Linked DNA regions of Homo sapiens: region 2 is linked to region 1. The links come from fine-mapping of genetic effects on gene expression. Tissue or cell type: cerebellar hemisphere. Region 1 holds a variant in brackets; the other region holds the start of a gene. All regions are shown on one strand. Distances are between the middles of the regions.

The links. PIP is the estimated chance that this variant, and not a neighbour inherited with it, causes the effect.
Region 2: it holds the start of TLE6, and the variant in region 1 is fine-mapped to the expression of TLE6 in cerebellar hemisphere (GTEx, PIP above 0.99).

Annotation. Positions count from the first base shown.
Region 1 is chr19:3,005,148-3,011,237 of GRCh38, forward strand. TLE2 (TLE family member 2, transcriptional corepressor) reads right to left here. Exons shown (of 20, transcript NM_003260.5): 12 at 5,875-6,013; 13 at 4,395-4,555; 14 at 3,722-3,798; 15 at 1,273-1,522; 16 at 574-821; 17 at 290-437. Among named protein-coding and RNA genes, the nearest start is that of TLE2, 21 kb to the right of the region's middle. RefSeq lists an enhancer at 968-1,902 and a silencer at 2,011-2,208. The variant C/CA (reference allele first, on the strand shown) is at 3,707.
Region 2 is chr19:2,974,753-2,979,752 of GRCh38, forward strand. It overlaps TLE6 (TLE family member 6, subcortical maternal complex member), which reads left to right and starts at 2,812. Exons shown (of 17, transcript NM_001143986.2): 1 at 2,812-2,858; 2 at 3,446-3,532. The coding sequence starts at 3,482. RefSeq lists a silencer at 2,534-2,843.

The DNA.
Region 1 (6,090 bases):
AGGAAAGGCACATATAAGGGTATGGCTGGACAAAAGCAGGTGGGGAAGATGATCTGGGGGTCTCAGTAGCCCCACAGCTTCCTATGAATCAGCTCTTTTGTGTTCCCCTACATCTTTAGAGAGTTACAGGGGAAGCCTGTGGATGTGTCTGGGGGACAAGAAAGATGGACACCACAGCAGATGGGAGTCCTGTCCTGTCCTGCCTCTGGAAGTGGGCACCTCACAAGGAGAGGAAGGGATGCTGTATTCCTAGAGCTTCCATCCCCCTCCTGCCAGAACCGAACAGCACCTGGGAGCTGAAGTCATGCTGCTGCAGCTGGCGGCCCTCCCGCAGGTCCCAGCAGCGCACCGTGTTGTCCAGGCCCCCTGTCCAGAGCCGAGTGCCGTAATCGGAAATATCAATGCAGCTGGCGCCGTCCGTGTGGCCCTGGAACTGCCTGGAGGGAGAAGGGCCCAGGCGTCCATCCTGGAATTCGAGCTGCCCCAGCATCGTCCCAGGTCACACTCCTCCACTCCCCCTGCACCGAGAGCGGCCGGGGGCTTGCCCAAGGTCCCAGCGCACCTGCCACCCACCTGACCATAGTCTGATTCTGCAGGTCCCAGACCACAATGTTGCCATCGCTGCAGCAGGAGAAGCAAACCTTGGCGTCGGGGCTGACGGCCAGGGCGTAGCAGGCTGGGGCTGAGGAAGTCAGCTCGGCCTTGATACGGGGGGTGGGCGCCGCCAGGTCCCAAATGGACAAGGTGCTGGCCTCACCGCCCACGATCAGACTCCGGCCATCCGGCAGCAACTTGCAGGAACGAATGTAGTTGTCTCGGTTCTGGGGTCGGGGAGAGAAGCAGGGGCTGGGGGTTGGTCCCAGGTGAGGTCTCTAGGAGCCTAGCTCAACGTGGGGGTCTCTGGAGCCCAATGTAGCCTCATCCTGATTAGCCTGCAAGCCCTACCCTGATTGGCTGGTGAGCCCCGCCCCTTTGACCTGCAAACACTGCCCCATCTGACTATAAGCTCCATCCTTTACCTATAAGCCCCACCCATGGTTGGCCTGCAAACCCTGTCCTGATTGTCTTGCAAGTCCAATTCAGATTGGCCAGAGCCCCACCCCTTTGGCCTGCAAGCCTTGTCCCATGCGACTACGAGCTCCGCCCCTCACCTATAAGCCCCGCCCTTCACCTGTAGCCCCACCCACGGCCAGCCTGCGAACACCGCCCCATTGGAACATAAGCCCCACCCCTCACCTGTGAGTCCCGCCCACTGTCCCACCCCGCCCTCACCAGGCAGTCGAGCTGGGCCACGGGCGTCTTGGCCCCAGGCTGGCCCACGTCCCACACCTTCACACAGCCCTTGCCGCCCGTGTACACATGCTGTGTGGAGCCGCTGATGGTGACCGCGCAGACCACCTCGCCATGGGCCAGCGTGTGCAGCTGCCGGGCGTGCCGCGGGATGCCCGCGCCTACCAGTGCATCCGAGGGGAAGGGAACCGGCTGCATCTGCCCGTCCGCAGACACGTGGAAGGAGTAGGCCCTGGAGAGAAAGCCGGGGCATGACCCAGCCCTGGGCACCACGCCCCCGCACCCGCACCTGGGAGGGCAGGGAGACGCCTTTGTCCTGCCTGGCACCCTCTGATGTGTTTTTTATTTTTTGTTTTGTTTTTTGAGAGGGAGTCTCGCCGTGTCGCCCAGGCTGGAGTGCAGTGGCCCGATCTCAGCTCACTGCAACCTCTGCCTCCTGGGTTCAAGCGATTCTCTTGCCTCAACCTCCCGAGTAGCTGGGATTACAGGCATGCGCCACCATGCCTGGCTAAGTTTTTTGTATTTTTAATAGAGACAGGGTTTCACCATGTTGGCCAGGCTGGTTTTGAACTCCTAACCTCAAGTGATCTGCCCGCCTCGGCCTCCCGAAGTGCTAGAATTACAGGCGTGAGCCACCATGCCCAGCCTGATGCGTTTGTTTCTTTTTTGAGATGGAGTCTCGCTCTGTCACCCAGGCTGGAGGGCAGTAGCGTGATCTGGACTCACTGCAAACTCTGCTTCCGGGGTTCAAGTGATTCTCCTGCCTCAGCCTCCCAAGGAGCTGGGATTACAGGTGCAGGCCACCACGCCTGGCTAATTTTTTTGTATTTTTAGTAGAGATGGGCTTTCACCATGTTGCTCAGGCTGGTCTCAAACTCCTGACTTCAAATGATCCTCCCACCTCGGCCTCCCAAAATGCTGGGATTACAGGCATGAGCCACCGGGCCCAGCCTCTGATGCATTTTTTAAAGTAATTTTCTCTGTTATTATTTTGTAGAGATGAGGTCTTGCTATGTTGCCCAGGCTGGCCTCAAACTCCTGGTTTCAAGTGATCCTCCCGCCTTGGCCTCCCAAAGCACTGGGATTACAGGAGTGAGCCATGGTGCTCGGCCTCTGATTTAGGAAAAAGGCAGGACAATGTGGTCAAAGGTGATATGGGACAGTCAGTGGGTGGCACAAATACACAGGGAGTCTAGGTTGTGGTGTGGCGCATGGTAAACAAGCACTTAATAAATGTTCGTTCAACCGAGGACCCACAAAGAAACCTTGAGTGTTCCAGACCAGCTAGAGGGTCTGTCCTAGGAGCCCCGGCCACCTGTGACCAGTTAAAACACTTAAATGAACTGAAATTAAATAAACATTTTCAGGCCGGCACAGTGGCTCACACCTGGAATCCCAGCACTTCGAGAGGCCAAGGTGGGTGGATCATTTGAGGTCAGGAGTTCAAAACCAGCCTGGCCAACATGGTGAAACCCTGTCTCTACTAAAAATACAAAAATTAGCCGGCGGTGGTCCGTGCCTGTAATCCCAGCTACTCAGGAGGCTGGAGCAGGAGAATCGCTTGAACCCAGGAGGTGGAGGTTGCAGTGAGCTCAGATCTCACCACCGTACTCCAGCCTGGGGGACAGAGCGAAACTCAGTCTCAGAAAACAAAACAAAACAAAACAAAACTTTTCAGCTCCTCAGTTGCACTGACCACATTTCAAGTACTGAAAGCCACGCCCAGCTGGTGGCGACTGGGTTGGCCAGCAGTGGGTCTAGAACACTTCCATCACTGCAGAAAGCTCTGTGGACACTGTGGCCAGATCTCCTCTGGTGGAGCCATCCTGGACAATGCAGGATGCTAAGCAGCATCCCTGGCCTCCACACTCCAGGCCAGGAACGTCTCCTCCCCCAGCTGTGACAACCACACGTGTCCCCCGACATCGCCCAGTGTCCCCTGGGGGGTCAGAGTCTACTTCTATGGAGAGCCAGTGGAACTCTGAGTAGCTTATGCAAGAGACTTTTTTTCTTTTTTCTTTTTTTTTTTTTGAGACTGAGTCTCGCTCTATTGCCCAGGCTGGAGTGCAATGGCACGGTCTCAGCTCACTGCAACCTCCACCTCCCAGGTTCAAGTGATTCTCCTGCCTCAGCCTCCCGAGTAGCTGGGATTACAGGTGCCCGCCACCACGTCCGGCTAATTTTTGTATTTTTAGCAGAGACATGGTTTTGCCATGTTGGCCAGGCTGGTCTTAAATTCCTGACCTAAAGTGATCCACCTGCCTCAGCCTTCCAAAGTGCTGGGATTACAGGAGTGAACCACTGTGCCCGGCCCACACAAGAGACTTTCTAGAAGGGAAGCAGGGAGACCCCAACCACAGAGGGTAAGACCTCAGAGGAGGTGGGGGGCTGGCCCGGGACCCCAGGCAGGGAGCCC[C/CA]ACCCTGGTACTCACGGCTTTCCCCCAGGGATGCTGGGTAGGGAGGAAGAGACGGATGACCCTCGGAGATGGGGATGAGACTCAAATGCCATCTGTGAGAATGCCAGGGGGGTGTCAGTGAGGCAGGTGACTCCAACCCACCTCTGTGCCACCCCACGCCCACCTGCCATACCCCTCTCTGTTTATCACCCCTCCCCAAGGCAGCAGAGATGCCTTCTCTCTGCCTGTCACACTACAGATGAGAGGGCTGAGGTTTTCACTTGAGCACACCGACACCAAAATCTCTATCCAGGAAATCCTAGAACTCCACGGTTCCAAGGATCCTGAAGGGTTCTCCATCCAATGCCCAGACTGGCTCTAGGCCAGGGTTCTGAAAACTCCAGCCCCTCCCAGGACAAATCTGGTCCACTGCCTGTTTTTGTAAACAGTGTCCCGAGGCCAAGGCCCTACTGCTCCTCTTCATGCAGCTTAATCGCTGTTGCGTTTTTCCACAATCAGAAGTCTTGCTTTGTATTAAGCTTGTGGGACTACTGAGACCCCCAGATTGTCTTCCCATGCATACTTGCTGAGCCAGGGCTCCCTTCCCTTTCTGCACTCCCTTGTCTCTCCTTGTGTAGTTGGTTTCTCCTCCCGGCCCCCAGCCCCTGGGCCCTGCTGACACCTCCTGCGCCCCCACCCAAGGACTCACCACGGGGGAGCGTCCGTACACCACAGAGCTGCTGACCTGGGGGGACAGGTGGAGGCTGACGTAGGAGCTGGGCACGGAGAGGTCTCCGTTGAGAGTGCTGTGGGAGCCCAGGCTGAAGGACGTGGTGAAGGGACTGGACAGAGTCAGGGGGCTCCTCAGGGCTGAGACGGAAGAGTCGGGGACAGGTTTTGACGCCCTGGACCCAGATCCCGCCTCCCACTGCCTTGGGAGCTCCCTGGCCTTTCATTTAGAGTTTCCATGTGCTGGTTCCACATTGGCCATAGCCTGGGACACCTCCAGACCTCTGCACTATCGTTCCTCCAGTGGACACGACTTTCTCTCTCTCTTTTTTTCTTTTGTTTGAGATGGAATCTTGCTCTGTCGCCAGGCTGGAGTTCAGTGGCGCGATCTCGGCTCACTGAAACCTCTGCCTCCTGGGTTCAAGCAATTCTGCTGCCTCAGCCTCCTGAGTAGCTGGGACTATGGCCATTCTCCTTCTTTTAATTGGCAAACTCCTATCCATCCTTCAAAACCCAGGCCCACCGAGCACAGTGGCTCACGCCTGTAATCCCAGCACTTTGGGAGGCCGAGGTGGGCGGATCACCTGAGGTCAGGAGTTCAAGACCAGCCTGACCAACATGGTGAAACCTGGTCTCTACTAAAAATACAAAAATTAGCTGGGCATGGTGGTGCATGCCCGTAATTCCAGCTACTCAGGAGGCTGGGGCAGGAGAATTGCTTGAACCTGGGAGCGGGAGGTTGCAGTGAGCTGAGATGGTGCCATTGCACTCCAGCCTGTGTAACAAGAGTGAAACTCCGTCTCAAAAAAAAAGGAAAAAAAAAAACAAAACCCAGGCCCAATGTCCATTAACATCTCAGAAACATCCTTGAGCCTCCCCATTGCCAACCTCCAGCCCTGCCCATCTTGGGTACCTGCCTTGGTACCAGCCCTGACTATACAGGGCTGTGAGTTTTGGGGTCTGGGTCCTGTCCCTTTTTGCCACCTGGGAGTTCCTTGAGGGCAGATTCCAAGGCCAGCTTCTTTCAGGGGCCCCAGAACCAGCCCAGGGCCTGACCATAAGGCAGAAAAGATGAGCACTGTCATTCCTCAGATTACTGATGGGGAAACTGAGGCTCAGAGAGGTTGGGTCACTTGCCCGAGGTCACCCAGCTGGTGAATGCCCAAGCCTGGTCTGAAACCCAAGTCTGTCTGGCCCCAAAGATTGTCTTTCCAGTGCACTAGGCTGAAACCCCCGACTAAGCCGCTTCCACTCTCCAGGCCTCAGTTTCCCTACCCGCCGAGCTGACACAATGAGGAACTGCCCAGAGGGAGGCAGCGTCTAACTTGAAGTCACAAAAAGGACCAAGGCAATGAACACCAAGCCTGGAATCCCAGCATTCTGCCTCTCCAGCCCCTTTTCCTAGATCTCCCCAGAGACGAGGCCTGCTCCAGACAGGCACCAACAGGCAAGGTGCTCACCGACGCTGTCCGTGGAAGGTGCTGGCTTGGCAGCAAGCTGGCAGAGGTGACTGGCCGAGCTGGGCCCGGGGGTGGAAGCGTCCTGGGGCGGGGAGGAGTCACAGGATTTGGAGGCAGGAGTGCTGGCGGGAAGGTCATTCTGCAGAGAAAGGGCAGGACTGAAGGCCACCAGGCACCTGGTGTCTTGTGGCCCAACGATCTGATCAGAAACTGGGG
Region 2 (5,000 bases), 31 kb before region 1:
GGTGGAGGTGGGAGGATCACTTGGGGTCAGGAGTTCAAGACCAGCCGGGGCAATGTACTGAGACTCCCCTCCCCCTCGCCCTGTGTTTAAAAAAAAAAAGAGGAAATAAAGGGAAATATAGGGAAGGGAAGGGAGGGTTGGGAGGTCTCTTCAATGAGATCCTTCCTTCCTTCCTTCCTTCCCTCCCTCCCTCCCTTCTTTTTTTTTTTTTGAGATGGAGTTTCACTCTTGTTGCCCAGGCTAGAGTGCAATGGCACGATCCTGGCTGACTGCAACCTCCACCTCCCGGGTTCAAGCGATTCTCCTGCATCAGCCTCCCAAGTAGCTGGGATTACAGGCGTCTGCCACCACACTCAGCTGACCTTTGTATTTTTAGTAGAGATGGGGTTTTGCCATGTTGGCCAGGCTGGTCATGAACTCTTTTCTTCTTTTGAGGCAGAGTACTCTGTCGCCCAGGGTGGAGTGCAATGGCGACATCTTGGCTCATTGCAACCTCTGCCTCCCAGGTTCAAGTAGCTGGGATTACAGATGTGCATCACCGTGCCCGGCTGATTTTTGTATTTTTAGTAGAGGTAGGGTTTCAGCATGTTGGCCAGGCTGGTCTGGAACTCCTGACCTCAAGTGATCTCCTGCTTCGGCCTCTCAAAGTGCTGGAATTACAGGCGTGAGCCACCACGCCTGGCCTGATGTGGTGATTTTTTTTTTTTTTTTCTGAGACAGAGTCTTGCTGTGTCACCCTGGCTGAAGTGCAGTGGCACAATCTCGACTCACTGCAACCTCCGCCTCCCAGGTTCAAGTGATTCTTCTGCCTAAGCCTCCAGAGTAGCTGGGACTACAGGTGCCTATCACCATGCCTGGCTAATTTTTGTATTTTAGTAGAGCTGGGGTTTTCTTTTTTTTTTTTTTTTTTTGAGACAGAGTCTTGTTCTGTCGCCCAGTCTGGAGTGCAGTGGCGCAATCTTGGCTCACTGCAAGCTCCGCCTCCCGGGTTCACGCCATTCTCCCGCCTCAGCCTCCTCAGTAGCTGGGATTACAGGCACCCACCGCCACGCCCGGCTAATTTTTTTGTATTTTTTATTAGAGATGGGGTTTCACCGTGTTAGCCAGGATGGTCTCGATCTCCTGACCTCGTGATCCACCCGCCTCGGCCTCCCAAAGTTCTGGGATTACAGGTGTGACCCGGCCAAGCTGGGGTTTCACCATGTTGGCCAGGCTGGTCTCGAACCCCTGACCTCAGATGATCCACCCACCTCTGCCTCCCAAAGTGCTGGGATTACAGGCGTGCACCACAGCACCTGGCCCAACGTGGTGATTTCTAAGTAGGGAGCTGAGGGAGTAAGGAGCCAGCCGGTGGCTGTCTGAGAGAGACTGTCCCTGGCAGAGTGAACTGCTAATGCCAGTACCAGGTCCTGGGCCAAACAGAAAGAAACGGGCTCTCACTCCAGAACTGCAGCTTGACCACTATATATATAATATATATACTTTATATATATTATAGCTATATATTTTTTTGAGATGGAGTCTTGCTCTGTTGCTCAGACTGGAGTGCAGTGGCACGATCATAGCTCACTCCAGACTCAACCTCCTGGGCTTACGCCATCCTCCTGCCTCAGCCTCCCCAGTAGCTGAGACTACAGGTGCATGACCACCACACTTGGCTAATTTTTAAATTTTTTGTAGAGACGCGGTGTCACTGTGTTGCCCAGGCTGGTCTCCAACTCCTGGCCTCAAGCAATCCTCCCACCTCAGCCTTCCAAAATGCTGGGATCACAGGTGTGAGCCATGGTGACTTGGCTTCATATTTTGAATAGGCCAAAACAAAACTCCGAAATCCCCTTACTCCTATCCCCACGACCCCACACAGCAGGTTTCTCTCGCTCTGCAGCAACCCACTTACCTCTCGGAAATCATCCCAGGCCTGTTCGGAGTGCACGCAGCCCCGTTAGCCTCCCTGGCTGCTCCTGTAACCAGCCCAGCTCTGCCTGAGAGGTTCCGCTATTCCCTCCGTCTGGAATACCCACCACTCTCTCCCACCCCGCGCTTGCATCCGGCAATACTGTATCAGCCTCAGGGCCTCTGCTGTCCCGCTTTCTGCTCTCAGAGCCTTTGTCACTGGGCTGGAAGAGCAGTTGGGAAAATTCGGTGATAAATGCATAGCCCGGGGCTGGGACCATCAAGGGGACCCAGTAAGTTGGCTCCAGAAAGAGGACTTGAAGCTTCGTTTGCATTGCACGTTATTTAATATTGAGGAAAATGTAATTAGCCCGTATCTAAGAATTGGGGTGACAGCGCTAAAGATTGAACCCACCCACCTCCCACTCCTCACCTCCAGCCATAAGCCACTTCCGGACAAGGCTAAAAATGCGTAAAACAATGCAACTACTCGCCACCTATCCCTGCCCAAGTTCCAGCCTCTGAGCCTCAAGCCCCACGCCCTCCTAAATATCCCCGCCCCCGCTGGGACCCCAAATTGCCTATAGCTCTGCAAGTCCGCCCTTCCCGGCAGCGGGACCGAAAGGGTAAAGCAGAGGCTCCCGGCTCGCTGAGTGACAGCATGGCCGGCGGCCGGGGAGAGCCGACCAATCAGGGAGGGCGTACGCGACCCACGTGCGTAAACGGCCTCGCTATTGGCCGGCGCCGCCAGAGGCCTGCCCCCCCCGGAGCCCGAACCCACGTGCAGCTACTGCGCCTTCATTGATCTGCTTCGCGGTCCAGGTGGCGGCTGGGTGGGGCCTGGGCGGGACGGGGCGGGGACAAGGCGGGACGAGGCGGGGCCCGATGGGTCAAATGGCCCCCGGTGGGGGAAGGAGGAGTTTCCTCTTGGCCTGAACTTGGCTGACCTCCGCAGCTTCCGCCCGGTGAGGGACGTGAGTTGCCAGGCGTGTTCTAGGGGGCTGGGGGGACTCCAGGATTCCCGGCCGGGGAAGGGGCTGCAGGGGCGTGGAGGGGCAGGACTGAGGCAAGGAAGAAGCTGGGTGCTGCAGCAGGGATGGAGGTGGAGAGAGGTCGTTTCTTCTGTCTGATGAATTCCGCCTAATGCACCTGGCTAACTCCTAGTCATCCTTCAAAACCCCTTTCTAGTGATCTCCCTGCGCTTTAGGAAATTGTCTCAAAACTAAGGTTGAGCTTTGGCGACCTTCCCTGGGCTCCCCCGTCCCTGACTGCCCCCAGCAGGGAGTGTATGTGCACTATCCACCCCAGCCTCCTAGGGTGAGGCCTGGGAGGCAAGGCTCAGTTCTTTCTGGGTCCCCGCCCCCATGAATCTGGGCAGCTGGAGGCATTGATAAGTGAGGACAGGACCTAGGGAACGCATGGGAGAACCGCAGGATTGGGTCCCTGGAGACTTACCAAACTGGGAGGTGCGGGTGGGGTAACGGGTGCCTTGCTTCCCTGGCACTGCCTTATTTTCTGTCCCTCAAGACCTGCCGTCTCCTTGTTGTTTTAGACTCTGGCTAAAGTCTTGGAGGCTACTGCCTTGAAGATGACCTCTAGGGACCAGCCCAGACCCAAGGGCCCCCCGAAAAGCACTTCGGTGAGGAGGGCATGTGGTGGGATCAGCCCTCAAGGGAAACCCGGGCCCAATGTGGTTCTGCCCCTTTTCCACCTGTGACCTGGGCTGGCCCCGCCCAGGCCTCGCAGCTGAAGACAATACTGGTCGCTGCTACACTCAAGACAGGTGCCAAGGAGCCGTGTTTTTTAAAAAAAATTAAGTGTAGGCTGGACACTGTGGCTCACAACTGTAATCTCAACATTTTTGGAGGCCGAGGCAGGAGGACCACTTGAGCCCAGGAGTTTGAAACCAGCCTGGACAACGTAGTGAGACCCTGTCTCTGTAAAAAATAAAACTAGAAGAATCAGCTGGGCCTAGTGACGTGGGCCTGTAGTTGCAGCTACTTGGGAGGCTGAGGCAGAGGGTTGGCTTGAGCCCAAGGAGTTTGAGGCTGCAGTGAACTATGATGGTGCCACTGCACTCCATCCTTGGTGACAGTGAGATCCCATCTAAAAAAAAATGTAGCATCTAATCACATATGTGATAAAAACACAGGAACACATCATGTATTTGGTTGATGTTTTACAAGCAATCCCCGCTCCCTGCACTTTGCGTCCCAGAGATGACCATTTGTAAATTTAGGCTCTCAGGGCTGAGCAGACGTTTTTTTTTGTAAAGGAGTCAGATGAGGGATATTTTGTTTTGAGACTTTATGATTTTATTATGTTTGAGACGGAGTCTCACACTCACCTCGGCTGGAATGCAATGGCGCAATCTCAGCTCACTGCAACCTCTGCCTCCCGGGTTCAAGTGATTCTCCTGCCTCGCCTCCCGAGTAGCTGGGACTACAAGCACCTGCCACCATGACCACCAAATTTTTCTTGTATTTTTAGTAGAGACTGGGTTTCACCATGTTGGCCAGGCTGGTCTCGAGCTCCTGACCTCGTGATCTGCCTGCCTCAGCCTCCCAAAGTGCTGGGGTTATAGGTGTGAGCCACCACACTTGGCCAAGAGACTTTATTTTATTGAGTCTTGCTCTTGTTGCCCAGGCTGGAGTGCAGTGGCGCGATCTCGGCTCACTGCAACCTCCACCTCCCAGGTTCAAGTGATTCTCCTGCCTCAGCCTCCCGAGTAGCTGGGATTACAGGTGCGCGCCACCACGCCCGGCTAATTTTTGTATTTTCAGTAGAGACGGGGTTTTGCTGAGTTGCCCAGGGTTGTCTCAAACTCCTGACCTCAGGTGTTCTGCTCACCTCGGCCTCCCAAAGTGCTGGGATTACAGGCATGAGCCACCTTGCCCGGACTTTTATTTTTAAAAATATTTTGTGCTTCTATTTTCATCACAAGAATGTGGTGAACATTTTAGACTTTAGGCCAAAGTGCAAAATGGAAGATGCTCTTTACTGAAATAAGAGAGGCCGGGCGCGGTGGTTCATGCCTGTCATTCCAGCACTTTAGGAGGCCGAGGCGGGTAGATCATGAGGTCAGGAGGTTGAGACCAGCCTGGCCA